Linked DNA regions of Homo sapiens: regions 1 and 2 are each linked to region 3. The links come from fine-mapping of genetic effects on gene expression. A gene starts in region 3. Each other region holds a variant in brackets. All regions are shown on one strand. Distances are between the middles of the regions.

Region 1 (10,651 bases), 25 kb after region 3:
GGCAGTGCTCTGAGGACAGCACCTACGCCTGACCCTGGGAGCTAGTCCCTAAGCTCTCTCCAGAGTGTGGCTCTCTCAAGGCAGCAAGGCTTCACGATGTACAGGAGTGCACTTAGAAGAATTTGGTGGGAAGATCCCCATGCTGGGAGACTCTTGTGTGATAGATCACTCATAATTCACTGAAACGACTTACCAGGAAAGTTTTGTGTACTAAGGTTGGGATGGACACTGGAATGAAGGCCGGTGAGGATGACGAAGACAGTTATTGAGACATAGTCACTGAATGACTAGTGACCAGTTAATAAACTTAGTTGTTTCCAAATAGCCACATGGTAGTCATATGGGATGTATTTGTTGAATGAATACAAACACAGATCAGATAGACTCAGGCTTTCCAATGTAGCTGATGAAATGTGATCAGAATCCTGAGAGAGTTTATGACCTTTCTAAGAAAAGGCTCTATGCAGCCTGTATGTTGATTCAGTGGGGAAGTGCAATAATCATACTTCAATTGACAGCAAGCAGCTGAATGGAGACAGAGCCTCCTCTGTGGCATTACTAAGACCCTGAATGGATATCTACCTAAACCTGCATGTGATATATATGTATATTGCTCTAGGCTGCTGTGTTTCACTGAAAAACTGCTATGTTCTAGTTCTGTTAGTTCTAAAAATAAAGGCAACAAAGCAACATCTTATATTCAGAAGAACAGATAGTGGCAATTTCTACAAAAACCAAGAACTAAATCTTAAGGATCCTTTGACCTCTGTTATCACTGAAAGACAGAGCTATGCCTAGCTCCAGCCCCTAGTTGGCCAGCTGTAGTCACTTGCAGCTTCCCTAATATACCAAATGTGCTCCTTCATTCAGACACTGAATTGCTTACTCATTCCTTTGTTCATCAAATACAAATGGAGCACCTACTTTGTATTAGGAACCTGGAAAATAGAGATAAGACAGTCTTGGGGGGAGGGGAGAAGGGGACCCCATGTATACAAGACAATTTGAGAGCTCAGGTGAGGTGCAGCTGGTCAGAAGTAGTAGGCAGGAAAGATTCCCCAGAGTTGATGCCTCAGTTGAGTCTTCAAGCTGGGGCAGCACACTGTGGGGAGAAGACCAAGCAAACCAAAGCTTGAAAGAGCATGGCATGTGTGGGGAACTGGAATTCCACATGGCTGGAATATAGGGTGGTGGGAGATAAGACTGGAGAGGCAGAGAGGGATGAGGTCATGGACAGCATCTTCTATGCATGCCAAGGAGGTTGCGCTTTATCCCGAAGTCCACAAGGCAAAAAAGACTGCACAGTGAAGTGACATGCTGAGGTCCCTATGTCAGGAAAACCACTCTGGCCACAACGAGAAGAAGGATTGGAGGTGATCAAGTGCTGGGGGAGGAGAGTGCAGGGAAGCAGGCGTTATTGCTCACTGGATAGTTTGAGTGTATCAATTATTAAATCCATGACCTGAATATGGGACAGATGAGACTGATCTTACGAAAACAATGGCCTTCATTACAATAACATGATGCCTTAACCAATATTTAGATGGTTAGTTAAAAACACTTTATAGAGGAAAAAATTTAACATAGTACTCCAGAGAGTAAATTATGAACAAGTAAACCTCAAGTGGCAGACTTACTCTGAATTGCTTCATGGAGGTTTCCTTTTTTTTTTTTTTTTTTTTTTTTTAATTATACTTCAAATTCTGGGACATGTGCAGAGTGTGCAGGTTTGTTACATAGGTATACACGTGCCACGGTGGTTTGCTGTACCCATCAACCCGTCATCTACATTAGGTATTTCTCCTAATGCTATCCCTCCCCTACCCCCCATCCCCTAACAGGCCCCGGTGTGTGATGTTCCCCTCCCTGTGTCCATGTGTTCTCATTGTTCAACTCCCACTTATGAGTGAGAACATGCCATGTCTGGTTTTCTGTTCCTGTGTCAGTTTGCTGAGAATGATGGTTTCCAGCTTCATCCATGTCCCTGCAAAGGACATGAACTCATCCTTTTTTATGACTGCATAGTATTCCAGCTTCATGGAGGTTTTCTTGGTTGTTACCTGGGGTTCCAGTTTTGCACGCTGCAGAGGACCTGCAACTTACAGATTTATCACTTAATTCATTCTTTGCATTCTCCTACTTTTCCTCACTCCAACCATTTCTGGGCATTCCAAAGCCCCTAAAGCCAGAATTCATTTTGCCATGGTTCTTAGCAGAGTAAGAACTTCTTTTGCTTCCTAGAGAATATGAGAGCCTAGCAGTTGCCTAGTTCTTCCTCCTGGTCTCAGCTCTTTCTGTAGCTCTAAAATGCTGCAACCTCACAACCAGTGGGAGACTATTCTTTCCACTAGTAGAAAAACACGTTTCCCCGGATCTCTCAGCAACTACCCTGCTATAGCTTTGCCTTGAAATACTGTCAAGAGTACAAACTATTTGCAGGTATTAATTATCTACCAATAGTGCTGATAACATTAGGCTCTCTCTAAGCTACTCCCTATATTTACCACCAGCAATCTTTTCGATTGTATTCAGGGAATAGGATAGGGAACAGTCGCTATGCAGTTACTCAGCACTTCCTCAGAGCAGGGAACACTGCTGAGAAATCTGGAAAGTCAGACTTGGGTTCATACCTGTCAGGTCTGTTCCTCTGCTGCAGGGCATGCTCTCGCCTCAAGATCACTGGACCCTGAGAAAGCTACTCTAGGACCCTCACTCCAGTACAAGCTACAGTGTGAAGTCCTATGATAATGGCAGTCAGCTCAAAGGAAAGCCAGACAGAAAAGACCTCATCTAATACAGTTTCCTCAACAAGAAAAGCGTCACTGTACGCACCGCTGTTGCTTTCTGTCTGACATTTCAAAGACTGTTTCCATGAAGAACGTACCATTTACTTTTCTGTGATGCAATTACAACTTGAAATGTTTCCAATGAGAAGTCCAGCTTGATAAGCCCTCAGCACTGAGCAAACACCATCCCCGTACATGCAGTTAAGGCAGTGATTTGAGCAGGGGTGATCAACATGGATTAAGGGACCCGACACCCACCTCAGGGTATCAAGAGACAAATATGTCCAAGTAATTATGGGGCACACACTGTCCAAGGCATGTGCTAGGAACCTCAACAAAGAGTGGTGTCAGTGTTCAAGACAGCAGAACAGTGAGGAGTCTAGACCTCCCGTATGCTTATCTGATTTTATTTCTCGATTCTCTACAATCCTTAAACGTTTGAAGTGGGCCCCATTTGGTTAAACGCCTAACTGATGATGGGGGTGGGCTCACGTTTTGTAAAATTTTGTTTTCTTTTACAAGTTCTTTTTCAGGCTATATATTCTCTAAAGGGCTTCCTATGAAAGTCTTGGCTTACAAGTAAAACACATGGTTATCTAATGCCTTTACATACACTGGCTTGAGATACTTCCTTTTCCCTATAAATTATAAATCACAGGCAATAGATCTGACCGGAGAACTCCGCACCTGCAGCCCTGAACAGGAAAATGAGAAAGTATGGAGTGTGTGGTGGCACTGGCGGGGGATGGGGGAGGAGGGGTGAAGTAGAAAGAAAGAGAAACAACTGGACACCAAAAACATAGTGGTTAACAGTGCATACTCTTTATTTATCGGTATGCAAAAATGAATCGCAATGCACCATGATGAACCAATGGGCCGAGAGCAATGGCCAGGCTCTGTGCTAAGTAAGCACTTTCTATGTATTATCTCGTTGTATCCTCACAACAATACTCTAAGGAAAGTATTGTATCTATATTTTACAGAAAAGGAAATTGAGGCTTAGCAAGATTAACCTGCTTATTTCAAGCAATTTTGCATTGAAGAGCTGGGCTACAAATCCACAGACAACATTCCTAACTTGTACCTTTTGCTACTACTTACAATTCCAGTAAATAGACCCGTTATAAAAACATAAAACCTGACAACTGGCAGGTCTTAAACTGGATATGAAAACTAATAGAGTGTGAGAGTTGTCAACAGGAGCTAACACAGCCACCTTTATTTTTATTTACTTTTTTATTCTGAGACAGTCTTACTCTGGGCCCAGTCTAGAGTGCAGTGGTGTGATCTCAGCTTACTGGAGCCTTGACCTCCCGAGCTCAAGTGACCTTCGCACATCAGCTTCCAGGGTAGCTGGAATCACAAGCGCATGCCACCATGCTCAGCTAATTTTTAATTTTTTTTTGTAGAGACGAAGTCTCCCTATGTTTCCCAGGCTGGTCTCCAACTCCTGGGCTCAAGTGATCCACCCACCTCACCCTCACAAAGTACTGAAATTACAGGCGTGAGCCACAGCACCCAGCCTTCCCAACTACCTTTACTGAAAGCCTTCTCACAGTCTATGTAGCTCTTCTGAGGCACTGTGTGTCATGGGGGTGATAACTGCCATGAAAGTACTGGAATTGTTAACAAAGAATCGCAGGCAATCAGCAGGATGTTTACATTCAAAGGTTTAGAAGAAAATAAATTATTTCCTGTAGTTTATTTATCCTTAGCACTTGTTTTGGAACTCATGAGAGTTGATAAAAAGTATACATTATTGAGATAGAAATTTTTCTGTTTCCAAATTGTCATGTTAAGTAACCCATTGTTTTCTATTAAGCACAAAATTTAACTTTTTTTCAGTCTAGATTTTGATTCTCCAGAACCATGCTTTGGCTTTTCCTCCTGTGTTTTCTGCAGGAAAGTGGATTTATGGTTACTATGGTCTCTGGGCTTATAGATGAACTTCCCTTTAACTGTTTAATGTGCACCTAAGGGGACAGGGCCCTCCTAAAATATCCCTGCAGGTTGCTGCAGCTTGTCCCCACATCTGTCTTTTCTTCTGTGTGTTTTTTTTTCCCCACTTTTTGGGGGGTCTACAAACAGCACTGTTGGACAGTGAATTGCTGAAGCTGATAGATTAAAATGAGTTCCACCAAAAATGACTCTGATTCCATCCCATATCTGGTACTAGGCTAAGTGGCTGACATTCAGAAGTGTGTAAGATGGTCTCTGCCCTGGAACAGCTCACAGACTAGGCGAGAGAACAGACCTATATAAACTGGCTCTTAAATACAACAGGCAGACAGAGGTATGGACAAAGCCCTACGGGACCCCAAAGCAGGAAAACCCAAATTCTGCCCTGAGGGAGTGAACATGAACAAAGCTTTGTTTTAGTATACATTTGGAGTTGCATGCTTTTATGCATTACTAATAGAGGATTTATAGTAAGAACAAAGAAATATTAGAAGCATCTTATGATTTAGCTAATAACAAAACTCACTTTCAATGACATAGCAACATCTTAAAATAATAACAATTTTAAAAGCCACACATAAAAATCTCTATCTGAATTATCTGTCTATTCAATAGGACAGTAGGACTACAGGCATTACAGGAATAAAAGGGCTAATAAAATGAAAGTTTTGCATCTCTATATATTTTTGCATATATATATTTGTTGTTGGTGTTAACCTTATGGATAAACTGAATTTTAGAAGCTCTTTAAATCATAATTCACCACGAAGTCAAGTTTGGTACAAACGATATCTCATCAATACAACTTGAAATGTTTCCAACGAGAAATCCAGCTTGATGAGCCTTTGGCACAGACTACTTTGGGTAGTCAATTTGTGGGGTGCCTGTTTTGTGATATAGTGCAGGCCTGAGCAGGGTGGTAAACGGCATTTCTGGGGGTGTCATGCTGAGAGTGAAAGGGCTTCTCATAATGTCTTTATATCACAGTGTGGTAAAATAATTGTATTTATATTATTCTAAAGTAATTTGTGAAACTACTCAAGCTCCTTATGCAGCCAAGAAGAGCGTAGTGCAGTGAGTACAGTGTTAAGACTGTACAGGTCCCTGAGCCATATCCACCTGGACTGGAATCTTGGTTCTGCCATTTATTGGTGCTGTGAGCCTGGACCAGTTACTTAGCTTCCCTGTGCCTGTTTACTCATCTGTAAAGTAAGACAGAACTAGTTACCTGTGGGCTAGTGCTGAGGACTGGAAAACAAAGTGTATCAAGTGCTTTCCACATGGTGGGCACTCTTAAAGGCTGCTGCTTTACAGGTGAGGACAAAGGGAGCTCCTCGACACAGACTGGGCAATGGTGGGCTGGGTGGGTGGGAGCTGTGCCCTGCTCAAGGAAAAAGAATCCACATGACCTTACATTAGCCTTTGAGAAAATATATTCTATTCTGATAAGTTGTTTTTGACATAGGCTCAGAAAATGTATAAGTATTAAACATTTTTTAAAATATAAA[A/G]CAAAGTTGTTTTACCATATACTTACTCATTATCTAAAAAATGTACATGTCATATTCCCCAGACATGACTGTAGAGAAAGACAGGTGGGGTAGAAGATAAGTCGCCAACCAAATAAACAGTGAAGCACATCCCTATCCTCAAGCCGCCACTAACAGTCAGCTCTTGGTGTGGATTCTATACTTCCACTTTTATAATAAAACCTACTTTTCCTCATAAAGGAGACCTGGAGCCTAAGCTATAGTGCCCTTTGGCTATCCTTGGTTGAGCATCTTCCAAATGAAGAAAGGCACCGACATTCTGGGAGTTACTTTTCTTCCTGGTGAGCTCACAGGGTGAGCCTGTGGGTTCTTGCAGCAGTGAAGGTAATGCCCACCGCTTTTCTGAGCAATGCAAGGCTTTCTGTTAGCACTTCATCAACAGCTGTAGCTCCCTGGCAGCTTACGCTGCATGGCAGGGCAACCAGGAAGCCAGCACTAGAGACAGTGACCAAAGAGGAGTGACACAGATTCTGAGAGAGATCTATCTTCTTGGCCTTTCTTCCAGAGGTCTAAGAAAAATATGTCATTCCTGCTTTCTCCAGGTTTTCTTTCCTTCTTTGAAATAATTTGCACTAGAGCAGGTTTTTTGCTTGTTTCATTGTTTGTGAAAAAAGCAAAAGGTCAGATATAAAGCAGTCGGTTGAATACCAAGGGATCAAATTAGTACCTACACATACAGGCCCCCTACTTCCCAGCTAGGGCCCCTACCCTGCCTTTATCTCCTGTTTTCATCCCCTTGAAGCTTTCCCGGGCTCGGGATATAAACTGTTAGGTCCTCCAATGCATGCCCATTTCTGGGGAGAGTCCAGACAGTCTGGATGACAGCAGCAGGCTTCCACTTCTCCCCTCCCCTCAGAGTCAAAGACATGTAAGCCCCAATCTTGCAATGTTAAAGGAAACCGATTCTGTGATATAAGCATCTCCTTTCAGTTACTTAAAAAATCTTATCCCTGTTGGGGACACAGGCAGCTGCAAAGTGTCAACATTTCACTGCAGTCTTTCTGAGCCTCTGTTTTTAGGGACTTGCAGAATTGCTAAAGAAAGGGAGATGGTTTAGGGACTTCAGTTTTTCCAGTTACCTTGTTTCCTCTCTTCCGTTTATTCCTAACTGGCTCAATTACCATTCTTGAGAAAATGAGAACTGAAATCTCCAAAGATTTTTAAAAAGTGGCTGAGGATGGAGGTGAAAACACAAATGCTTCCCGCCCGTGAACCCTGCTTCTCTCTGCAGGCACAGAGGGGAGCGGTGGGAATGGGAGCGCCAAAGGAGGAGTAGGTCCTATGGGGCACTGTGTGGCTCACTCTCCAGTAGCTGGAACAACCATCTGTGTATACAGCGGTGTGCAGAGCAGCACTCTCCTTTCCGTGTGGCTAACATGTAAAGGGCCAGGATCCTCTCCCTCCCACATACAAGCCACGAGGCCATCAAGTGACTGGCTTGTCTCTTTCTCACGTGAGACTGCACTGAGATGCTAACCCAGGGCCTCTGCTTTCCTCTGGCGAGGCCCTCTGGCAAAGTAAGAGGCCCTGAGCGCCAGTCTCCTTCTGTGTTTCTGTCCTTCCCTGGATCTGTGCCCCAAGAAGGGGGCAAATGTACTGGAATGGTTTTACTCAACTAACTGAGAGAAGGGCTAAGTCCAGTTCATCAGACTTCTCTGGACTAGAATAATGGGCCCAAGCCTTGGTAAAAATCAAGTACTATTGTGTTTTCCCCTCATTATGGTTCCTATACAACAGCTCCTTGAGGCATCTTATGGGGAGTGGTGGCTGTTGTTTAGAATGGCATTGGGCATTCCGGGGTCTCTTGGCCACATACTCAGCATCACTAATACCTTTCATTAACACAATGAAAGTATCTGAAAAGGGGATGTGAGAAGAGGAACAGTTAGGCAAATAGTCTTTTTAAAGTGCTTAGAAGCATAACTAGGCTATAACTAACTTTGTAATAGTAATAAAAACATTTATTGAATGCTTAGTGCATTCCAGACACTCTTTCTTTTTTTTTTTTTTTTGAGACGGAGTCTCGCTCTGTTGCCCAGGCTGGAGTGCAGTAGCATGATCTTGGCTCACTGCAACCTCCCCCTCCTGGGTTCAAGCAATTCTGCCTCAGCCTCCCGAGTAGCTGGGACTATAGGCATGCACCACCATGCCCGGCTAATATTTGTATTTTTAGTGGAGACGGGGTTTCACCATGTTGGCCAGGCTGGTCTCGAACTCCTGACCTCATGATCCACCCGCCTCGGCCTCCCAAAGTGCTGGGATTACAGGCATGAGCCACCGTGCCCGGCGGAGATACTCTTATAAGGTCTGAATTACAAGGTATGAATTATAGCATATTTTTGGAATAGCTGTATGAGGCTACATACTATTATTAACCATTTTATTGATGAATAAAGGAGGCACAGTGAGGTCCGGTAACTTAAGCAGGGTCATGAACAAGGGTGGATTTGGTGTTTGAAGCTTGGCTGAGACTCTGGGAGCCCAGCTCTCCAGCACGTTTGCCTCCCCTCAGTCACCAGGCTCCACTGCAGAACCCCAGAGTGTGCTCACACAATTGCCCAAATAAAGCTTTCAAGGTCACAATATTGAGATAAAAACAAACCTATCTATTTTCAGGATGATTATGACATTCTGGACAGGCTTTAAATTAAACAGGCAGAACTAACACAATCCGTTTCAGAATACCGAGGCTTGGCGGAAAGGCAGGCCTGGTGAGCTGGTCCAGGGAGCATTTCCTATGCTGCAGCAGGCAGGACATGTGCATGTCAGAAGGATTTGCATGCCCCAATCTGCAAACAACTGCACAAGGTTTGCTCCCAAAGGCAACACACACCTTTGGGCTAAGGCAGGCTAAGAGGGATGGGGAGAGAGCAATAGCAGAGGAGTTCCTGTTCTTGAGGACACTTGCCCCTTTCCCAAGCCACACTGTAGCCCTGGCCTGGCCCTCTGGGGGCAGGGGCAGCACCACCTTACAGGCAGCCCCCCTACCACTGCCTAACTTCATCTGAAAGCTGCACTTCATGTGTTCTCTTTGGAGCAATTTCAGATTCCTACTTACTGATAGTGATGCTCAGATTCAGTCTGGCAGTAGCACACACCAGCTGTTTCCGTAAGCCTGGGCCAAACGTGGTCATGGCAGTTTAGAATTCCCCCCCTAAGTGGGTTTGAAATGAAAACTTCAAGTTTATAAACCAAACATGAGTTCACTTTTCAATGAATGAGACATGCATCCCTTATGGCTTAGAACAGTGACAGAACAAGGGAGTGCTGACCTCTTATTTGCCTCTGACACACCAGGTGCCTCATGAAACAGAGAATACTCCAGAGGTTTCCAGACAAACTGGGATTGGGGTGGCGAAAACGCACAGTTGATTCTCTTCCCTTGGTTTATTTCATCCTGGTTCTCCTTCCCACCCTTCTTACCTCCCCTCCCATCTTATTCATTCAGTGGCTCCTCGTCTTCCTCCCAACCCTTAAGCTGGGTTCCCTAATGATCAATCATTAGAAGTCTTCTCTCCTTATTCTGTATACTTCTTTAGGCTGCTATTACCCATGCTCTTGGCTTTAACTACAGCCTCATCACTCCCCAACCAAAAGTCAGCCTCAAATATCTTTCTAAGCTTTACACCCATACATCCAGGGCCTGCCAGACACGGATCCACTTGCATGTCCCACTGGCATCTCAAATACAAGTACCAAAATGAACCACTTGTTCAGCCATCTCCCATAACTTGCTGCTGCTTCTCTTCCCATATTCCCTGTCTTATTACCAAGTCCAGATACAAAGAAATAATCTTAGATTCCTCCATCTCCATTCCCCAATATCCTGTTAGTACTCAGTACCTTTGATTCTATCTCCTAAATCTTTCCATCTTCAATCCCAATGCCTTAGTTCTTATAAAAGCTTTGTAAACAGGCTCCCCAACTCATATTTCATCCTTTTCTAGTATTATACCACACATTTGCCCTCAAGATAATCCCTCTCATTTGTTAATCTCACCAAATTCCTAGGGCTAACTGATATGAACTGGTGCCCCTGAACTGGCTGTTCATAGCTGGCATACATTCTGATTGGTCAATCCCTATATCACATGGTTGTCAAATGTTTTGACTGTCACCCTGTTACTCCCATGCTTAGACCCTTCAATAGCTCCCCAAAACAGTCTCTTCAGTGTGGCATATCATGACTTTTTGTTCTCAGGCCAGTGCCTAAGCCACAACATCATGCTACCTAACCTTTTCTAGTTTCTCTAACGCAGGGCTTCTTTGCTTGCGGTGTACAGGTCCAGAGGTTTGGAGAAGGGGTTATGTAAACTTTGGAAAAATTTACATGTTTACTTTTGTTAATCTCTAACCAAA
Region 2 (10,651 bases), 37 kb after region 3:
ATTGCCTGGAGTTGAAAAAGTTTATTCCTGTGACTGTGTGTTAATACTAACCTTGAAATGTCTACCATTTACCATTACACCCCCGTATTTCCCCATAAAATTTCAGTAAACTTACAGTCCTGACATAATTACCATGAACAGCCCTCTATCTGGGAATGATTACACTTGCATATGGATTTCACTTGGGACAGGAATAAGTTAGCACCTTTCTTTGACCTTTTTCTGAGCACAACACACAAGCTGAATCCAGAAATGATGAGTATTTTACAGCAGCTGGCTTCCACAGGTGGTAAAGCAGACTCTGACACATGATGGGTCTAGTTGTTCAGCAAGTGTGAATTTTGGAAGTGAGCATCTGCCAGTCTTATTATTAACTGAGAGTTGAGCTGTTTTTATGAACTCCCAACCTGGAAGAACTTAAATGCATTTTTGAAACAGATTCACTTACAGTTTAAATGGAAAATAAAATACTGTTTTTCTTGTATTTTCACATCGCTCAGTGACTGGAAGTAGCTGAAAGCCCTGGAGAGGGGGCCCTCCTGAGGCCCCAGCACTCTCCCTTCGGCTAGTGAGGGCTTCCTTCTGGTTTCCAAATTTCAATCTCTAGCCAACTGCTATTTCAGAAATATGATGACCACTATGGCCATGAGACAAAACAACACTGGCATTTTCAAAAGTCCTCTCTGGGTGAATATTTTCAATATTCTAAAAAAAAAATTTTAAGAACATATACACTTCTCGTTTTAAGATAATTGTACTGGGAGGTTATGGAATTAAGAATTAACAATGTAGAAAAGTTTAAGTCAAATGTATCAAGGTTTATAAAGACATTCTAAGTCCAGTGGGTTATCTCGTATTTCACTTGTGGATTGCTCCTGAGTCCTATGAGAGTTTGCCACTCAGCAGGGATCATTTCAGCAGGTATCATAGTTCAGCACCAATTGTAAAGTTTAAGACTAATGCTGTCCAACAGAAGCATAAAGCAAGGTACATATGCAATTTTAGAATTTCCTAGTTACAATGTTTAAAAAATTATAAAGGAATGGGTGAAATTACTTTTAATAATATGTTTTACTTAATCCACTATATCTAAGGTAGTATTTCAACAGGTAATCAATATAAAAATTAATGAAATACTTTGCTTCTGGGGGAACTAAACTTTTGAAATCCAATGTGTGTTTTACACTTATGGCACAACTCAATTAAGGCTAGCCACAAATAACCACATGTGGCTAGTGGCTATAATATTAGTACAGTTCTGTCCTACTCAGAACGGACAGCCAGACAAATGATGCCACAGGAGTACCACAGTCATCCAAATTCTAGGGTGACCTTAGACATATACTAAACCCTACTCTTATAGTTTCAGAGATTGGTGCTTCCAGATGTGTGTGTGCAAGATTCTAGTATTTGCAGCATAACTCCCAAATGTTGAATATTTCACAAAACTGGTCTTAGGGTCAGAGCAGGACATTCCTACTCTAACACATTAGAGAATAAGAAAGGCTCACTAGTCATGAGATCATATAACATATAATGTATTTTCCACTGTTTCATTTATATTCCAACATTATTTATTCTATAAATATTATGGAGTTTTCTCAGTAGAAGGCCTAGAGAGGCTAAAATGCATTGACAAAATAGAAAAGTATTGATTCTAAAATTAATTCAACAAAAACAGGTGATAAAAAAATAAGTTATTATGCAATTAGCTTTACTACTCTCTACACAACTTTCAGGGATAATTTCAATTTTAACTGGAAGTAGAACTCTATGTCATTCTACCAACCCTTAAAGTCTTACAGATTCTAACTAGTTCTAGTCCTTTGCCCTCGTATCTCTGCCCATCTACTTATTATCTATCCCCTTGCAGCACTAAAGTGATTACCTTACATAAATGCTCCTTTATGGTTTCGTCATCTCTCTTCACCACCTCCATCATTTCTTGGCCCCCAAGGTAGGCAGCATTAGCTACATTTAAAAAATAAAAAGTCAAACATTTAGAATATATAGAACAAACACAAATTTCAAATTAATTTTAGTAAATTCATGTTCCTCCTTTCTTTTGGCACGTGCTATCTGATGAGAGATACTGGTGAGGCCAACAGAGGAATGTGAGTCAGGCAACATGCACACAGTCTCTGGAAACAAGAGCATTTCATTTAAAAGAACCTTCTTCCAACCTCATCTGGCTTCTCCATAGCAAAAGTTTAACAGTGCCACAGCCCAATGTCAGATACCACAGCAGATGATGTGTGCAATTTTACCAGACCAATATGTGCTATTTCGATTTAAGGCTTAGAAGTACAAATTGTTACCAATAAATCATGTATACCAAGAAAATGCAAACAGTTACTAACATGAAAATATACTGGCTTTTTTTTTTTTAAAGGAAACAACTAAAAGGATTATTTATCTTTAAAAATACGTTTAAAGTTCTCCAGGAGTTTTCAATAGGGTTAGTCCCATTACACTGGCTGCAAAATAAGCAAAGTGATGCTCACTTTCAAGATGTCAAATACCTAGGAAAGAGGAAGAACGCCAGAGATAACATGAGTTTATGTGGCTTTCTTGTACTGGTAAGAAAATTTTCATTCAATGCTTTGTACCCTGAATTCCATTTTGGCTGGTATTATTATTCTTATCTTGCTTTCTTTTTTGCCAGCATCTGTCCTTCCCTTCATTTTCAATCTTTTGTCATTTTGTTTCAAGTATGTCTCTTGAAATCATGTAAGTGGACTTCTTTAAAAATGCAGTTTGAAAGTCTCTGTTTCTTAAATAGAAGGACTAAACATATTCACATATATTGAGATCAAAGCTATTTGGTCTGACGCCAGTCATCTTGCTTTATATACCCTACGCTTTCTTGTTATTTCTGCCTCTTATCTTTAGTGTGAATGATGAATTTTCCTCCCCACCCAGGATTTAACAAATTTCTTTTCATTAACAATCTGAAAGTATAAATTCCATTTTTATTTATCTAGTGGTTAGCCTTACCTAAAAACTGCAAACTTACTTTTTATTTTCTCTTGCTGTCTGGAATTACTCATCTAAACAAGGCATGACCTTAGCATACTTGCACTTTCCCCATGCCTTCCTCCCATCCTGCCTCCATCCCTGTTGCTTCAACCATCTGGAATTTTAGTTCCAGATTATTATTATTTTTTGAGATGGAGTTTCGCTCTTTGTTGCCCGGGCTGGAGGGCAATGGCACGATCGTGGCTCACGGCCACCTCCCAGGTTCAAGCAATTCTCCTGCCTCAGCCTCCAGAGTAGCTGGGATTACAGGCATGCGCCACCACACTCCGCTAATTTTGTATTTTTAGTAGAGACAGGGTTTCACCATGTTGGTCAGGCTGGTCTTGAACTCCTGACCTCAGAAGATCCGCCTGCCTTGGCCTCTCAAAGTGCTGGGATTACAGGCATGAGCCACCGCACCCAGCTCCCAGATTATTAATTTTTACATTTTGCCTCTGCTTTCCTTGTTTAAAGTTTTATCAAGGTAACACACATACACATATATAGTTTCATATCAAATATCACAGAAATGGTTGTAGTGCCAAACCATAGTTTTCTTTTCCATCATTTCCCATTTCTAGACCCGTTTCCTAGAGGAAGCCTCTCTGAACTCTTTTAGCTGTCCTTCCACCAGTTATCTTCAAACCTCTAAACACTTACGATCATCTTGTCATTTCTTGATAACTTATTGATTACCCTTGCTGAGTTGCTATGAAAGATGAGGATTTAGCTCCCTTTTACAGCCCTACCATTCCTTCCTGCCATCTTCTCAACATGTTTATATCTTATTTTGAATTATTCTATTCTTACTTAAATAATATACTTACACCTTTACTTCTGAATATTGTTCACTGCTGAGCCAAGTGGTATCTAGAACCACACTTCCACTCTTACACTTCCATTCTCTGTCCTCCAACATTTGTTTTCGTTACAGTTACCTTTTTTTCCCTCTTAACTCTACTCAATATTTTTCTGAGTCAATTCTTCCTGGAGACCTCCTTTCCAGGACCCTGAGACCTTCTGCTCTAACCTGGACCACTGTCGACTTAGAATTTCCCTTCACTGCCTTCTTGGGTTGTTCCTATTGTTTTCTAAGTCCCAGTTAATTAACTCATTCATTTGTTTATTCATTCAAAGATGACTGAGCACCTACTTACTTTATGCCAGGCCTTATTTTAGGCGCTGGAGATGGAGCAACAAACAAGACAGAAACACTATTCTTGAGCTTATATTTTAGTGTTGGGATGATAGATGGTGAGAAAGTGCTATGGAGAAAAATAAAATCAGCTTAGGAGATAAGTCTGTGCAGTGACAGAGGTGGCCTATTTTATGTAAAATTCACTGAAAAGACCTCCCTGATAAGGGGATGTGTGAACAGAGAAGAACTTGAATGAAATGAGAAAATGGACCATGCAGATACTTGGGTTAGCAGCACTCTAGACAGAGAATAGGGTAGGAGATGCTCCCTTAAATATAGCCATGATATAATCCTAAAAAGTAGCACTTTAATCATTCTTGTCTGTCTGTGATATTAGCATGAGTACATATAGGAGTAAAT[A/C]TTCTGCATTTTCTTGGCCTAATCTCCTAAATCAGAACAGGATATTTAGTCGCAGTTATATACTAAGAAGCTGGACTATAAGACTCTAAGTCCCGGTTCCAAAATCAGAACTGTCTTTGTTTTACTATATTTCAGGGAATTTATAAGGACCAACTAAATTAAAGCAACAGAGATTTGATTAATACATTATGGTCTATTCACTAAATTAATTATTCTATAACCTATTAAAAATTATCCTGCAGAATATATAATGTCAAATACATATTTAAAAATAATAGTAACTGACAAAAAACAAACCATGAAATAGTACAGTATGATCCCACTATTGTAAAGATACATTATGTGTATGGTACAGATTTATTTGAAAAGATAAACAATAAAATAATAACACGTTATCTCTGGTTGATGGAATCCCAGGTGATCTGCCTGTCCTTTCTTCTCCTCTCACTTCCCTGCCTCCCTTTCAAATAGGTTATAGTTTCTTTCTTTGTACATCATTTTGTCTTTCCTAGAATTATTTGTTGCCTTTACTTGATTTTCTTTTCTCATGAGTAGACAATGAAAATTCTTTCTTCAAAAATGCATCAGATTTTATTCCCAAATGTACAAACACATCCAATAATTCATTTATTCTGTCCCTCCCCCCACAGAGCCTTCCATTCTTTTGATCCAATCTTGGACGGGTTGCTCTCCAGGCCTGCTGCATAGCTGTCATCCTTGGACTTCCCTTTGCCACTTCTCTGGACTGGATTCCCTGTTTTATGGATTCTGTTCATGACTTTCTCATTCTTGGTTTATTCCCTTACTTTACTGAAGCACATTTTCCAGTAACTAATAAAAAGATACACAGGAATTTTTATAGATGTTTACATGTCTAATTTTTGTTTCTTTTCCCACATGAATCACATAGTTTGGCTGTATATAGAATTTTAAGCTGAAAGGGGCTTACCCTCAAGTTTATTATCTTCCAGCATCCAAGGTTTATGATTTCAATTTTAGTTTCTTGGAATGTGACTACTTCCCTTTGTCCTGCCCCTATCCCATCTCCTTATCCTCAAACTCAGCTGTCTTAGCTCTAGAATCCTGAAGTTTCATAGGAATATGCCCTAATACAAGTCTTCTATTCCTTAATTAGACTGGAAATCCAGTGGGCCCATTCACTGTTTGGACTTACCAACTTTCTTTCTGGAAAATTTTCTTTTATTATTTCTTTGGTAATTTCTTCCCCTGTTTTCTCCATCCCCTCTTTCTGGAACTCCTACTAGTAGGGTATTGGCTCTCTTAGACTAATCCTCTGTCATTTTTCTTCTATAGCCTTTCTCTTTTTCAATTTGTATTATTTTCTAAGAGACTAGTTAGAATACTATTATATTGTCTAGTGGGGGAGAGAATGAGACTTAAAGTGCTTATAGTATGAAAAAGAATAAATGATCAAAGACATAATTTTTCCTACTATAAACATGTGCTCTGTATATAAAATGCAGAAATTATATGAGTAGAAGAAATGATTAGCAAGAACTTAGTGAAAAATAATCAATATTACTATTTTGATGACTTCATTTAAATCTTTAAAATTTTATTGTTAAGTCTTAGTTTTCACATAGTTATACCGCATATGAAATTTAAAATTTTGCCTCTGAGCACATTCTAGAGTAGTGCTATGCAATATAACTTTCTGTGATGGTGGAAATGTTCCCTGTGCTATCCAACCAATACAAAGGCCCTTGGCTAGATGTGCCTCTTGAACACCTGAAATGTGGCCAGGGCAATAAGGAACTGAAATTTCAATTTTATTTAATTCATTTACATTTAAATAGCCACATATGGCTAATGTCTACCTTACTGAGCAGTGAAGTTCTTTCTAGAGCTACAAATAAGGCCGACCTTACAGAGCTAAGAAATGGATTAGATATTAGGAGAAGGTGAAGGAATGAAAAATGAATATTAGTGGGGGCTTAGGAGAAAAAAAAGTTTGGGGAACACCATGAGGAAAAGACAGATTTTATTGAAAGAGAAATTCTCATTTTCTTTATAACTCCCATTAGCCTTCTCTACAAAATCTGATCCCAACCTATGTTGAAGCTTGGCTTCATTTAAAGACTCATGCTTTCCAGTGAATGTGAGCTACTTATCCTCTAAACACATAAAATTTGCATCCTCAGCCATTTTGTTCATGGCATTCTGTCTACTTGAAGTCTTCCCACCCATCCTTTGTCTTGGCTTAGATGCTCTGTCTTTTCGCTACCTTGCTCTAACACTCCAATCTGTTAATAAAGACTGCTGAATTATCGATATAGAAGCCAAACCTGTTTAAACTGTTATTGGTTCCCAAAAATCTCAACTGAATTTTAATTTCAAATGGAAATGATTTTCCATAGTTCTACTTCTGAACAAGATGGAGTAAGAGGGACTGGATTTACCCTCCTACCTAAAATCCTGAAACAACTAAAAAAAAAAAAAAAGATAAAATACATGAAGAAAAAAGTTTTCAAGACACTGGATATTGGGCAACAAAAAGACAGCAATCCCTGAGAAAAGAGAAACGAATGAGAGGAGTCTTATGATTGTCTCAGCTTATCATTTGAAAAGTTTTCAGGCTACAGTGCAAGAAGGAGAAGTACAAGCAGAGCTTGGTAATCTCCCTCAGTTGATAAGTGCATTAATTGTTTTTTATTGTCTTCATTTTATGATGCTTTGACATCTTGGAGGCCTTGCTTGTCGGGGAGAGGCTGCCCCTCCCATGACTAGCTAAATTCTTAGAGATAGCAAATGATTCCACGGTGAACATTTCTTTCATATTGAGCAAACAACCAATCCAAAGGCCATACCCACCAACCACCTCCCTTAGAAAACTCTCACACAACAAGCCAAATACTCTAAATCACTCTAAATCCTGCTGGGAATTATTTCAGGGCTGGACACAAGACATCTAGGAACTACTCCTATAGCTCAAAGCCCACCAAAATTTTTCATACCAGCCAATCCTAACTAAACCTGCTCAGCTGCCTAAACTGCCTCATCCCTTCCTTCCCATGGGGACCACAATGAAGGCTCTGGGCCATGCTCTCCTGTGCTCCTTCTGCCTCCTTCCCCAACTGGGTGCTTCCCCATGAGGCCCTGCCTAGTGTGCAATGCCCCCTCCTTTCAAGAATTCTAAGTAGCTCTTCTTTCAAAGGCAGTTGTCTCCATGCTTGCCATGTTAACACACCTGATTAAAACAATGCATTTGTAATCAAGGAGATAGAGGTGATAGTTTGGGGAGGCTACCGCAGTGGTTTTTGGTAGGGCAGAGTTGTAGAAGGAGAAAGCTGTAGTGAGTGAGAGAACGCTCCAGAGATCTGCAGAGGGGACCCCCTGAATTTCAGCTAGGTGCAGATCAGCACAATTGTATGAGAAATTTTGAGAAGCTGGGTGAAGGAATCATCTGAAAGAATTAGAGGGAATAATCCCTGAATTGAGAATAGTCACTGTTTCTACCAGTCCACCAGAGAACGTCACAACCAACAATGCATCCACTAGAGCAGCACCAGTACTGTGTCACACGGCAGGAGGTGAGCAGCAGGCAAGCAAGTGAAGCTTTATCTGTATTTACAGGCATTCCCCATTGCTTGCATTACTGCCTAAGCTCCACCGCCTGTCAGATCACTGGCAGCATTAGATTCTCAGAGGAGTGCAAACCATATTGTGAACTGAGCATGCAAGGGATCTAGGTTGCGTGCTCCTTATGATAATCTAATGCCTGATCATCTGTCACTGTCCCCCATCACCCTCAGATGGGATTGTCTAGCTGCAGGAAAAGAAGCTCAGGGCTCCCTCCCACTTTTCTACATTATGGTGAGTTGTATAATTATTTCATTATATATTAACATTTAATAATAATGGAAATAAAGTACACAATAAATGTAATGTGCTTGAATCATCCCCAAACCATTCCCCCAGCCTGGTCCAGGGAAAAAGTGTCTTCCACAAAACCGGTCCCTGGTTCCAAAAAGGTTGGGGACTGGTAACTAGAGAACTCAGAGAGGTTTTTGCCTTGGTGGTGGAGTAAAATTAGCCCTAAACCAAATGCCATTCTGGTACCAACTAACAGCCTAGAAGCAAGACCAGAAAGTATCAAACCGTCTCCAAATAACAAAACTGTGTCCCATAACACAGCTCAATAATATTTATAGAAGTACAAAAATATCCAGCATCTGACAAGGTAAAATTCAGAATGTAAGCTATCCAATAAAAAATTATCATGCATGCAATGCAAGAAAATACAACCCAAATGAGGAGAAAAACTGATCAGTCAAAACTGATGCAGAAATGACAAAGATAATAAAATTAATAAACATTCAACAACTGGAACTTGGACAAGTGGATATACATGTGCAAAAGAAGGAAGCTGGATCACTACCTCACATGACATAGGAAATAAATTCAGAATGGATCATAGCCCTAAATGTAACAACTAAAACTATAAAACTCTCAGTAGGAAAGAGAAATACATCTTTGTGACCTTAGATTACAGAATGGTTTGTAACTATGACATCAAAAGCACAAGTGACAAAAATAAATAAATAAATTGGACTTCATCAAAACTAACACTTTTATGCTTTAAAGGACACCATCAAGAAAGTAAAAAGACAATCTAAAGAATGGGAAAAGATCATATGTCTGATAAAGATCTCTAGCCATAATATATAAAGAACTCTTACAAATCAATAATAAAGACAATCTGATTGAAAATGGGCAAAGGATTGCAACAGACATTTCTAAATATCTTCTTAAGAAGATGTACAGGTTGAGTATCCCTAATGTAAAAACATAAAATCTGAAATCTTCCAAAATTCAGCTTTTTGAGTGCCAACATGATGCTACAAGTGGAAAATTTCACACATGACTATATGTAATGGGTTGCAGTCAAAACTTTCTTCATGCACAAAATTAAAAATATTGTGCAGTTACCTTCAGGCTATGTGTATGAGGTGTATATAAAATATAAGTAAATTTTGTGTTTAGACTTGGGTCCCATTCCCAAAATATCTCATTATGTATATGCAAATATTTCCAAATCCAAAAAAAATCCCATATCCTAAACACTTCTCATCTCAAGCATTTCAGATAAGGGATATTCAATCTGTACAAATGGCCAATAAGCATGTGAAAAGATGTTCAACATCATTAGTCATCAAGGAAATATAATCAAAACCACAATGAGATACTACTTCACTAGGATGGCTATAATAAAAAAAGACAAACAATAACCAGTGTTGACAAGATGTGGAGAAACTGTAACCCTCATGTCTTGTTGTTAGAATTATAAACTGGTACAGGAACTTTGGAAAACTGTTTGGCAGTTCCCTAAAATATTAAATACAGAGTTACCATATTACCCAGCAATTCCACCTATAGACAAGAGAATTAGAAACATAAGTCCACAAAAAACTTGTACATGAGTGTTTACAGCAATATTATTCATAATAGTCAAAGAGTGCAAACAATCTGAATGTCCACCAATTGATGAATGGAAAGACAAAACATGGTAAAGTCATGCAACGAAATATTATTCATCAATAAAAAGTAATGAAGCACTGGCACATGCTAAACCATGAAAAAACCCTGAAAACATTATGCTAAGTGAAAGAAGCAAGTCACACTCCAAGATATCAGACTTTGTGGGACAGGGCCAAAGCAGTAGTTAGAGAGAAATTTATAACGCTAAAAACTTACATTACAAAATCAATTATTTCAGTTTCCATTGCAAGAAACTAGAAAGAGAAGAGCAGTTAACTCTGAAGTAGGCAGGAAATAAAGTTCACACCAGAAATTAATGCAATTAATTAATGAAATTGAAGCCAATAAAATAATCAAGAAAATAAATGGAACTAAAAGCTGGTTCTTCAATAAAACAATCAAATTGATAAGTGTTTAGCCAGATTGATCAGGGAAAAAAATGTGAGAAGACAAAAGATATTAAGATATTACAAATATCAGGAAAGAGAGAGGTGACATCTCTGCAGATTCCAGATATCAAAAGGATAATCACATAATTTTGTGAAAAACTTTATGTCATGAATGTAGACACCTTGG
Region 3 (10,651 bases):
TTGACTCTCAGGATTATCAGTTTTATGTTCCAAGTTAGTGCATGGCTGCAGGGACCCAGCATCCCCAACAGAGGAGAGGGGAGGGCAAAGGCTGACCCTCATTATGTTGCACCCACAGGGTGCCCTAAGCAGAGGTGAGGCAAGACCCTCTGGGCTGCAATGGAGAACAAAGGCCCCTGATCACAGGGGGACCCAGGATAGAAGATGGCTATGATGCCAAATGACAGGCTACTGATCACATCCCCTTGTTGGGGACTTGGCTTCTGCATGTGGACAATGTAGAGTAGGTTGCCTCTAAGGGATCTTTTAGTTGTCTTGTCATCAGACATGGGGCCAGGTGTCTGGGTATGGCAGGAGACCCTGGGCAAGGCTGAGTAGGCTACAGCTGGGGCTTGCCCAAGTTCCCGTACCTGACAGTCGCTTCAAAATGGCTGTAGCTGGCGGGATCCAAGACTAACTCCCTAAGTAGTATCAATCTAGTGTTGTAGGTTCCCAGATGACATGCAAACTCCCCACAGCAAAGGTACCTTCGAGAGATGTGGCTCTCCTAGTAGTAGTAGAGAGGACTTCCTCACAACCGGGTACAGGAAAGCACAACCGTAATCCCAGAACTTTGGGAGACTGAGCCTGGGCTCAAGAGGATGCTTTGAGGCCACCCTTGGCAACACAGCAAGACCCTGTGTCTACAAAATATTTTTAAAAATTAGCTGGGTGTGGTGGCTTGTGCTTGTAGACCCAGCTACTAGGGAGGCTGAGGTAGGAGGATCACTTGAGCCCAGGAATTTGAGTTACCGTGAGCCATGATTCTGCCACTGCACTGCAGCCTGGGCCACAGAGGGAGACCCTGTCTCCTAAAAAAAAAAAAAAAAAAAAAAAGAACAAAAAAGAACTTCCTCCCATTCAGAGGTATCAGAGGCTGCCTTGGATAGGGAGTTCCCCACCTCTGCAGGTATGCAAGTGCAGCCCAGGAAGCAATTTGTTATGATTCAGGCATGCATGGCAAGTTGGCTTAAATAATAACCCCAAAAGTTGTTTTCAGATCCTTGGATTCTATGACTGAATCAGGGACTTGGTGTTCAGAGAAAACAAACAGCTTCTGCAAGGGGTGGAAGAGCAGCAAAGTGCTCTGCAAGGAAGGGTCTGGGGCGGGAATGTGGGAACTGCCCCTCTTCATCCCAGTTGTCAAACATCGCCCCAAGCAGGCTGCTTTCCCCTCCTCCCTCCGTTGGAGGCAATCTCACCTTCTCTCTCTGAGGAGGACTCAGCTGGAGTCTGGAGGTCTGGGGTTTGGGGGTGATCAGATGGATGAAGAACTAAAGTTAGGGCTTTCAGGCCCCAGTTTTCTCCCAACCTTCTCTGATCTCTGCTCCTGACATCTGCCTCTGGGCCTCATCTGCTCCCCAGTGATGGCTGGGGCAACACAGAGGAAGGTTTTCATTCTCAAGGCTCTTAGTGCAGTTAGCATGTGGTGCACAGCTTCAAGGGCTCCGGGCTGTGCAAACTAGCTCTCTCCTGCCCAGCCAATCGACCTAAGGATCCCCACATCACCTAAGAGGAAGTCCCAACTGGGCAGGGCACCTGGAGACCTGGGTCATGGGCAGGTCCTGCTGCTGGTATGACAGGCTATTTTCCATGGCAAGTGTTTTCCGCTTCCAGTTGCGAGCAGTGGCAGGCAAGAGTCCCCTGGGTAACACTTTCATAGTCTTCACCTGGACTAGAGAGGTCCTTTCTTTGCCAAGAATTTTCTAGAAAGCCAGAGAGGAAAGGCAGGCATACTCTGCCTCTCCACTGGGGTCTGGGGAGCAGGGCGGCAGAACAAAGCCCCTCACATTCCCATCCCCCAGCCCCAAGCCAAGGGTTGAGCAAGGATAGTTGATGACTCCATGCTCTGCCACTCTCCAGGTGACTCTGCGCAAGGTGTTGAATTCTTTAGCTCAACTTTCCTTTTCTATAGAATGGGAAGAATACCCATCTCACAGGATAGAGTAGTTGTGAGAATGAAATGGCATGAGGTGTGTGGAGCAGCAGGCAAGGTGCCTGACATTCAAGGGACAACGAATGGGCACTATCATTATTTACAGGGAGCGAGGGAGACAGGCATGACCCATGCATCCTCTCTGCCTCCTCCTGGGCTCGGCTCCAATGTGTCCTCTGCTGATCACAGAGCCCCCCAGCCCATCACTTTACTCGGAACCACTGGATAGCACACTGTGCATTTATGCGCTTCCTGTTGGCTGTCTCCTGTGTCCATCCTAAAGCTCCATGTGCTCGCCCTGTGCGTTGCTCAATCCACAATGCACCGAAGGCTACCTGGCAATGAGTATTTACATAAAGAAGGAATGAATAGAGGGACGGATAAATAAATAAATGACTGTGCCCTCACCATACAGACCAAGAAGCACAGGTGGGAGAAGTGAAGTCTCAGTTGGAGCACATACAGCGAGTGGACAGTGGCTCCAGCAGCATTAGCCCACCCCATGTGTGTCCTCCAAAGCCTTCCAGGTGCGTAGAAGCTGCTTCTCTCTCTGCCATGATCACCCCTGGCACTGGGAACACACTGGTGGTTGGGGGCAAGACTACATCACCTCCTCTGTGCCAGCCTGTTATGCCAGCCACACACAGGATGAGGTGAGAATCCGCTCATTTTATAGATTAGGAAATTCGGTCTCCAAGAGGCTAAGTGGCCTGCTCCCACAATGACAGCAAGGGTGCATCCCTCATTCCTAAGCCCCAACGTGGCAGGGGTGTCATGTAATCAACAAACGTTTGTCACTGGCTGTGCCAAGAATGTGCTAGGACCCTTCCGCTCTCTGCTCTACACAGCCGGGTAAACTGAAGCCAAGACAAGGCAAGCGACTTGCTGTCACCCAGGACTCCCCGCGTGTTTGCACAAATCTTAGCCGAGTTGATTTGTAAAACACCCAAACACTGCGGGCGCATGGCTGCAGGGGGAAAGGAAGCCAAGTAACACAGTAGGACCCAGCATCCGCGTCAGGGAGAGACCGGGGGGCTGGCGGAGTGGGGGCGGCGGTGTTTGTCACCGACTCTCCAATCCCAGTCCTAGAAGCAGGGTGGACTATCCCAGCTCGATCATCCCAGATTCCCCAGGCTCCTGCTAGGAGAAGTCCCTCAGCGCCGGCAGCGCTGACCCTGGTCCAGGGGTCCGCCCTTCCCGGTAATGTCAGGCCTTTCTCCTTGGCATAGATCGGCCTTGGGGTCTGCGAGGACTGAACCTCACTAGGCCTCTCTCTCCCACCCGCAAACATTCTCGAGTGTTATGCGGCTCAATGCCCCAAGGTGAGCAGGCGCCGCGTCTCCGCGGTGGCCGAGAGGGCAATGGCTGAGGAGTTCGTTTGGGACGAAGCAGTGGAGCAGGGGAACTGGGGAGCCTGGGCCGGGCCTCTCTGTGGGTCCCAGCGCAGCGCAGCCAGGCAGGCGTCGGGACCTAGGCGGCTTTGGATTCGGCGGGCGACCTCGCTTTGAAGCTGATCACCCGCTCAAGGTGATCACGACGTGCCGACCCAGTCTAGATTTTGAGTTCTGCAGAAAATGCAATTTTAAAGGAAAAGGACCCGCCTGCCCTTCTTCGGCAGTTCGTTTGGCCCAGGCCTTCGATCAGCTGAAAGTTTCCGATCTAGGGGGATGTCCAGGCTGCCGGCGGAGCAGAGCCGATAACCCCCCTCTCCTGCGCGTTCCCCTGAGACTTGGCCTCCGCAACCTGTCCCAGCCGCGGAGCAAACTGCTCTGCGGCCCGCGCGAGTGCGCCCCAGGGCTTCGCCGCTGCCGGGCGTCCCCTCCATCCACCTCGGGACCCGCGCCATCACCGCGGCGGGGTAAGAAGCTCGGAGGCGCCATCCCGGGGCTCTGCGCCGTCCGCTCTCCCGGCTCCTGGCCGCTCACGCACACAGCCGGTAGCTGGTTTTCGTTAGCCGCTGCCCTCGCCCAGAAGGCGGGTGGAAGGTCGCCAGTTGGACGCACAGCCAAACTCTTAGCGCACTCCCGCGCGAGATCCCCCATCACCCGGGGCTGCCGTCCTCATTTCGAGCTCTTTCTAGAGCTTGGCTCCCGCTGAAGCGCAACTTCCGCGCCCAAACCTTGCTTTTACGACGGGCGGTCCGCGTCCAAAGGTCTCTTACAGGCCTGCCCTTTCAGCTCCTCGCCCTCCCTTCCTCCCCTACCGGCCCCCTCCCCTGCTCTGGCCGCCCGCTGCAATCCTTTGGGGTCTGTGGCTGAGTGGGGAACCGCCGACCCGCGATCCGGAACGCGACTTTGAGGCCGCCGGGAGCATCCTGTGGCCTCTCTCTGCGCGGCCACCCGGCCGCGGCGCGAAGCGGTCTGGAGGGCGAGCCCTTCCGCGGCCCCAACTCTGCCGCCCCGTTCCCGGCATTGGGAACCAGGGCAGGGAGGGGGCGGGTGTTTCTCTGCGGGGGAGTGGGGAGGAAGCTGGGCGGGTGCGCGCGGTGCCCCGAGCCTGGAACCACGGAGGGCGCGTTGGTCTTGGGCGGATGGAGGGGGTGTCGCACTGCCGCGGGGAGGCGTGTCGGGAGGCTGGGGCCAGTGGCAGTCGCTTGGCGAGGGTGGGGGCGTAGCGCTGCGGTGGGAGGAGGCGGCTCCGGCCCTGGTCTCCACTCTAGGCCGGGGTGGGGGGCGCATAGCGGCCGCCGGAGCTTTCAGCAGGGGGCGCTGCTCCGGGCGTTGGGCGGGGGTGGGGTGGGCCAGGAGGGGGGGCCGCGGGCTGGCCGCGCACACTTCCCCCATTATTAAACACTATGTTCAAAAGGCGCCGGGGGACTTCCCGGAGCCACGGAGCCCGCGCCGCCCGCCCGCCCGGCCCACGGAGCCCATGGACCTGAGCGCCGCCGCCGCGCTGTGCCTTTGGCTGCTGAGCGCCTGCCGCCCCCGCGACGGGCTGGAAGCGGCCGCCGTGCTGCGAGCGGCGGGGGCTGGGCCGGTCCGGAGCCCAGGGGGCGGCGGCGGCGGCGGCGGCGGCGGGCGGACTCTTGCCCAGGCTGCGGGCGCCGCGGCTGTCCCGGCCGCCGCGGTTCCCCGGGCCCGCGCCGCGCGCCGCGCCGCGGGCTCCGGCTTCAGGAACGGCTCGGTGGTGCCGCACCACTTCATGATGTCGCTTTACCGGAGCCTGGCCGGGAGGGCTCCGGCCGGGGCAGCCGCTGTCTCCGCCTCGGGCCATGGTCGCGCGGACACGATCACCGGCTTCACAGACCAGGCGACCCAAGGTACTTACGCCTCTTCTGTGCCCGCCCATCCCGTCAGGTCCTGGGCTGAGACCAGCCCCGGAGCCGTGCCGCAGCTCCGTTACATTTGGAGCCGCGGCCCCATGCGGCCCACCCTCAGGTGATAGAAAGAAACTTCGCCGAGGCCAACACTCTCCAGCCCGCTGCACCTGGACTGTGGCGAGAGTCGCGGCAGCTCCCGGGGCCCAGTCCCAGAGGGCTGACTGGTCCCTCTCCCAGGTCTCCCTGGCCTTGCAGGCCGGCTGGTCCCCTCGAGGAGGCAGGCGGAGGCCAAGATTCGCTTCTTGGGGAATGGTCTGGAGTGGCCTCGGAGCCCTCAGAGAAGAAAGGAGGGCAAGAGCTGTGTTCCCGGGAGTCACGGCGAGAGGGACTGCACGGTGGTGAGGGTGATGGCTCCTTCCTTGCAGCAATTTCTGCAGCTCCCAGTCTCCTGCGGGCCACACAAATTGGGGGAAGCCCAGGGAAAACTAGGGCAGAGGCAGGTATCAGACTAAAGTAAATGGCCCTGGAGAGGCTGGTGGCATAACCAGGTATGAGGAGTGCCCTGCTCAGCAGGTTGGTCTGGGTGGTGGTGGTTTGTGTGTGTGTGACATGTGCAGCTATGGGTGCCTGTGTCTGGTGCTGGGCCCCTGGGAGAGCCAGAGGTCAAGGATCCTGGTGGTGTGGGGAGGAGAGGCCTGCTGGGGACCCTGCAGGAATGCAGGCCTCTCTTAGACTAAGCACCCCACCTTGTTCTGCCCTGGGCCTTCCAAAGGTAAGATGTAGGTGAGGCTGTGGTGTGGCTGCTGTATGTCATCTGGATTTTATTAATCTCCATTGAAATCATTAAAGCAGACAGATAGAGAAAATTTACCTAATTTCAGGCGGAAATGCAAGTAATTTCGGCCTTAATTCTATCCAGCCAGAGACCCAGCATGGAGGGCAGGAGGGAAAGAAAGGCGAATAGGGCTGGGAAGTGAGCGGGTGGGGCTGAGGCAGCCCTGCTTGGGAGCCACTGACAGTCAGCATACCTCAGGTCCTAGCCTGGGAAGGCAGGCAGAGGCCTTGCAAGTGACCAGGTCATCCATCCCTGCCAGCACATGCCCAGTGCCTAGCACAGACTGCCTTATTTTTGGTACCTGGAAATCTTGGTACCCAATCCCCAAATGGCCCTGTGGTTCGGTTAGAACTATCAAGCCTTCTCTGACGGCCTGACATGGCCCCTGGGCTGGATGCTGGGATACTTATAGGACGCCCTAGTTCTGGTGCACAGGGACAGGGACTGAAGGGTCCCAGGCTGCAGGAGAAGGGGGGTGTGCTGGGCTCTAAGTGGGCACAGGCACCAGAGTCTTCTTAAGGTTGAGCTAGTTCTACCATGGTCTCAGACAGGAGATAAATCCTTTCTGGGGAGCTCAGCTTGGCTGGCTGAGCCTGAGAGGCCTCCTCTCCCTCCTCCCTCTTGGGGGAAACAGAGTGGCAGGGCTGGTGAGCAGGGAGAGGCAGAGGATCTGCAGGGAATCTCAGAGAAAGTGCTCCTCGTGCAGCCCCAGTGTGCCTCTCCGGCCTCCCTCTCCACCCTGAGTCTCAACTTGGAACAGGGCTGCTTGAGGTCCCCAGAAGCCATTGATAGGGATAGAACCGGGACCTCAGGCATGAGGGCCTGACCTTCGTGGCTGGTGAGCAAATCCCCAGTGGTGGGGGGATTCTGCATAGTCTCTCCGAGTTTAGGGGCAAAACGAAACCATATGACCCCCTTCAAAGGGAGCTCCTTATCTGCTGCGTGGTGGAATTTTAAACTTTTTTTTTTTCTGAGCCCAAAAAGGAAAAAGAAAAAAGAGTGTCCACACTGGAAATAAAACCCCTAAGCCCGAGATAAGTCACTACAGAGGGAAGAATGAGCCCGCGAAGGGACAGACAGGCGGCTCCTGGAAGCGAGACCTCGTTTGGGACGCTGCCCTCACTGCAGCAAGGTCATTCCGGGATGCCCCGCACCCCTCCGGGAGGTTCCTTGTGTTCCTTTACTGCCTTTCCCCCTCCTTCGGAGGCCGCGAGAGCACCGGGAGGAGGTGCATTTGGGGTTGCGATCGCGAGCAGCAGCGCCCATTGTTGCAAGACCTGAGACCTTGGGCGAGCCTGGCCCCTACCTGGGCCTCAGTTCCCCTTCGGCAGAGCGAAGTTGGACTAGAAGGTCTCTGCGGCCGTGCAGACGAATTCTCCCGGACGAATCGCCGAGCCCCAGCCTGCATGGGAGACCGTGGCCAGCAGGGATGTCCAGGCTGGGTTGGGGGAACAGAGGTAGCAGAAGAGTTTTCAGGAGACCAGAATTTTCCGTTTTCGCACAGCCAGGACTTTCGGCTCTCTTGGGGGATCAGCAGGGCAATAACGATAAGTCTCCTTAAGGCCCAGGACCTCAGGAGGGGGTGCACGACTTCTTTTCAACCCAGCCCCGGACTCTGATCTCGGATTCTGGCCCGCGGCTCTGGGTCAGGCCGCGGAACTATAGCAGCCTGCAGTCCTGGTCTTGGGTGTAGGGGTGCGCTCCTGGTCCCGCGGCTCAGGGATATGCAGTGACCATGGGTTGTTGGCCTGATGGGACTTTTGGCTTGCTAAACCAAAGCTCGGTTCGGATATCCCGGGCGAAGACGTCCGCTGCTCTGGGCCAGGCTGGCAGCGTTCAGGCTGGGGCAGAGACGCGGAGTCGGGCGCTGGCTCCAACAGGCCTGGCTCCCACATCGAAGACAGCTGGGCCATTTGCTGTTAGGAGGCCCCGCGCTGACAGTGTGCAGGATTTGCTCTTACACAGCTCTTTCTCTCTGTCCCTGCCGGTCCCCCGCAGACGAATCGGCAGCCGAAACAGGCCAGAGCTTCCTGTTCGACGTGTCCAGCCTTAACGACGCAGACGAGGTGGTGGGTGCCGAGCTGCGCGTGCTGCGCCGGGGATCTCCAGAGTCGGGCCCAGGCAGCTGGACTTCTCCGCCGTTGCTGCTGCTGTCCACGTGCCCGGGCGCCGCCCGAGCGCCACGCCTGCTGTACTCGCGGGCAGCTGAGCCCCTAGTCGGTCAGCGCTGGGAGGCGTTCGACGTGGCGGACGCCATGAGGCGCCACCGTCGTGAACCGCGCCCCCCCCGCGCGTTCTGCCTCTTGCTGCGCGCAGTGGCAGGCCCGGTGCCGAGCCCGTTGGCACTGCGGCGGCTGGGCTTCGGCTGGCCGGGCGGAGGGGGCTCTGCGGCAGAGGAGCGCGCGGTGCTAGTCGTCTCCTCCCGCACGCAGAGGAAAGAGAGCTTATTCCGGGAGATCCGCGCCCAGGCCCGCGCGCTCGGGGCCGCTCTGGCCTCAGAGCCGCTGCCCGACCCAGGAACCGGCACCGCGTCGCCAAGGGCAGTCATTGGCGGCCGCAGACGGAGGAGGACGGCGTTGGCCGGGACGCGGACAGCGCAGGGCAGCGGCGGGGGCGCGGGCCGGGGCCACGGGCGCAGGGGCCGGAGCCGCTGCAGCCGCAAGCCGTTGCACGTGGACTTCAAGGAGCTCGGCTGGGACGACTGGATCATCGCGCCGCTGGACTACGAGGCGTACCACTGCGAGGGCCTTTGCGACTTCCCTTTGCGTTCGCACCTCGAGCCCACCAACCATGCCATCATTCAGACGCTGCTCAACTCCATGGCACCAGACGCGGCGCCGGCCTCCTGCTGTGTGCCAGCGCGCCTCAGCCCCATCAGCATCCTCTACATCGACGCCGCCAACAACGTTGTCTACAAGCAATACGAGGACATGGTGGTGGAGGCCTGCGGCTGCAGGTAGCGCGAGGGCCGGGGAGGGGGCAGCCACGCGGCCGAGGATCCCCAGCTGATGAGCAGCAGCGGGCCACCCTGTCACCGAGCGTGGGTGCATGTCCGATGTGACCCAGCACCCTCTCAGAGGAGGGAGAGCACACGTTCACACTCACACACACTCGTGCAGTCACGCACACATTTACCGGGGACAGCATGTGAAAGCCTTGGGAAGAGATGACCTGCCGGTACCGAATGTCAAAGCCCTGTGTATTTTGCAAACAGATAACCATGGCGCCCACTGCCCCCATTTAGGGAGAGGAAGGTGTTTGTGCTGATGTTGCAGTTAGAGGCACGAAAATCAGGTAGCAACAACGGGTTAGGAAATTCGAAGTTCCAGAATGGGAGAACCAAAGGGGTACTCGAGCATGCTTTATCTCACCCCCTTTTGTTTCTGGCCCGATGTGGGGCATCGCTTCCCTGGGGGGCTGAGCGCCGCGTGGTGCACTCCGTGACCCACTGCAAGGCTGTAATGCCCTTCCCGAGGGTTTGTGTTGCATGGGGCCGTTTACCCTGGAACTGCTGCAAAAAGCATCTTTCTTTTTTTAACTTTTAAAATTTAACGTGCCCCTGCTTCATTTTTGAAAGGGAAGTTTTGTCTGAAAGTAGCTGTTGTGGAGCTTCCCAGATTTCTGCAAAGGTCGGTACCGCCACCCCCCCCCCCCCCCCCGCCTTTTTTTTTTTTTTTTTTAATCAATTCCAATAGGAAATGTTATGGAAAGTGGAAAGGATATTTTTCTTTTAAACGGCTGAGTCTGATCTAACAGGATATTGGGGTGGGATAGGATCTGCCAGGTTCGGAAGCTCCCCAGTTGGTCAGGGGGAGGTGGGAGCCATGCCTCGGGTGGCTCAGGAGGAAGTTAGTGCAATGGCCCGGAATGGGGAAGGTGGGGCTGGGGGAGGGGAGCTACTGCTTTTCCTAGAGACCTGCCAGGAGGTTTTCCTAAGAAGCCAGGGAAGAGGCTCTCAGGGCTTGAAAGGCAAGGAGGTGTCCTGGGGCCCACTCCAGCCGAGGACTCCGGCTTGCCGGCCAGGTAGGCGGAAGCTCCCGGGGCCGACTCGGGCTTGTGCTAGTTATCAAGTAAGTCGGCCTCCGCTTTTTACCTGCTTTCGCTGTGTTGTTGCTGTAGTTGTTGGCAGTGTGATAGTAACGGGAAGTGAAGCCACTCAAAAATGCTTTTGTCAGACTTCAACTCACAACCCAGACCTTTAGAGCAGGGGGAAGGTCTGCCCCTTCCCCTCATCGGCTCCCTGGCTTGGCTGCTGTGCCCTTGGAAGGGCAGGGCCTTGGTGTGGGGGAGCAGAGGTGGAATATCCCCCAGTTCCCTTATTTGGCCCCAAAGGGTCTTATTGATGGGAGGATTTTCTAGGCATGTAAAAGTGAGTTCGAACATTCAGACTTCACTGTTTGATTTGATTTGTTTATGCCTGGGAATCCTTTGTGGCTTTTTGTCAATAGGCTGGGAGAGGGAACCTAGTTGGACTCCAGCTGTCCGGGGTGGGGGCTTCTTAGAACAGCCCCGCAGCCCTCTCGGTGCATCTGTGTGATGTTGTGTAGGACTTTCCCCTTCAGAGTCCTGGGGAGCATTATTT

The links. PIP is the estimated chance that this variant, and not a neighbour inherited with it, causes the effect.
Region 1: its variant is the best candidate, but not a certain one, in a credible set for the expression of GDF7 in atrial appendage (GTEx, PIP 0.86).
Region 2: its variant is the best candidate, but not a certain one, in a credible set for the expression of GDF7 in T cells (TOPMed, PIP 0.79).

What each region holds. Positions count from the first base shown.
Region 1 is chr2:20,687,167-20,697,817 of GRCh38, forward strand. All of the region lies in intron 6 of LDAH (lipid droplet associated hydrolase), which reads right to left. Among named protein-coding and RNA genes, the nearest start is that of GDF7, 25 kb to the left of the region's middle. RefSeq lists a silencer at 6,650-6,834. The variant A/G (reference allele first, on the strand shown) is at 6,254.
Region 2 is chr2:20,699,682-20,710,332 of GRCh38, forward strand. It overlaps LDAH (lipid droplet associated hydrolase), which reads right to left. Exons shown (of 7, transcript NM_021925.4): 6 at 1,889-1,971. Among named protein-coding and RNA genes, the nearest start is that of GDF7, 38 kb to the left of the region's middle. The variant A/C (reference allele first, on the strand shown) is at 4,577.
Region 3 is chr2:20,662,397-20,673,047 of GRCh38, forward strand. It overlaps GDF7 (growth differentiation factor 7), which reads left to right and starts at 4,748. Exons shown (of 2, transcript NM_182828.4): 1 at 4,748-5,234; 2 at 8,068-10,651. The coding sequence starts at 4,844. The coding sequence ends at 9,029. RefSeq lists enhancers at 3,491-4,321, 5,308-5,427, 7,799-8,744 and silencers at 4,408-4,517, 4,588-4,637, 4,678-4,827.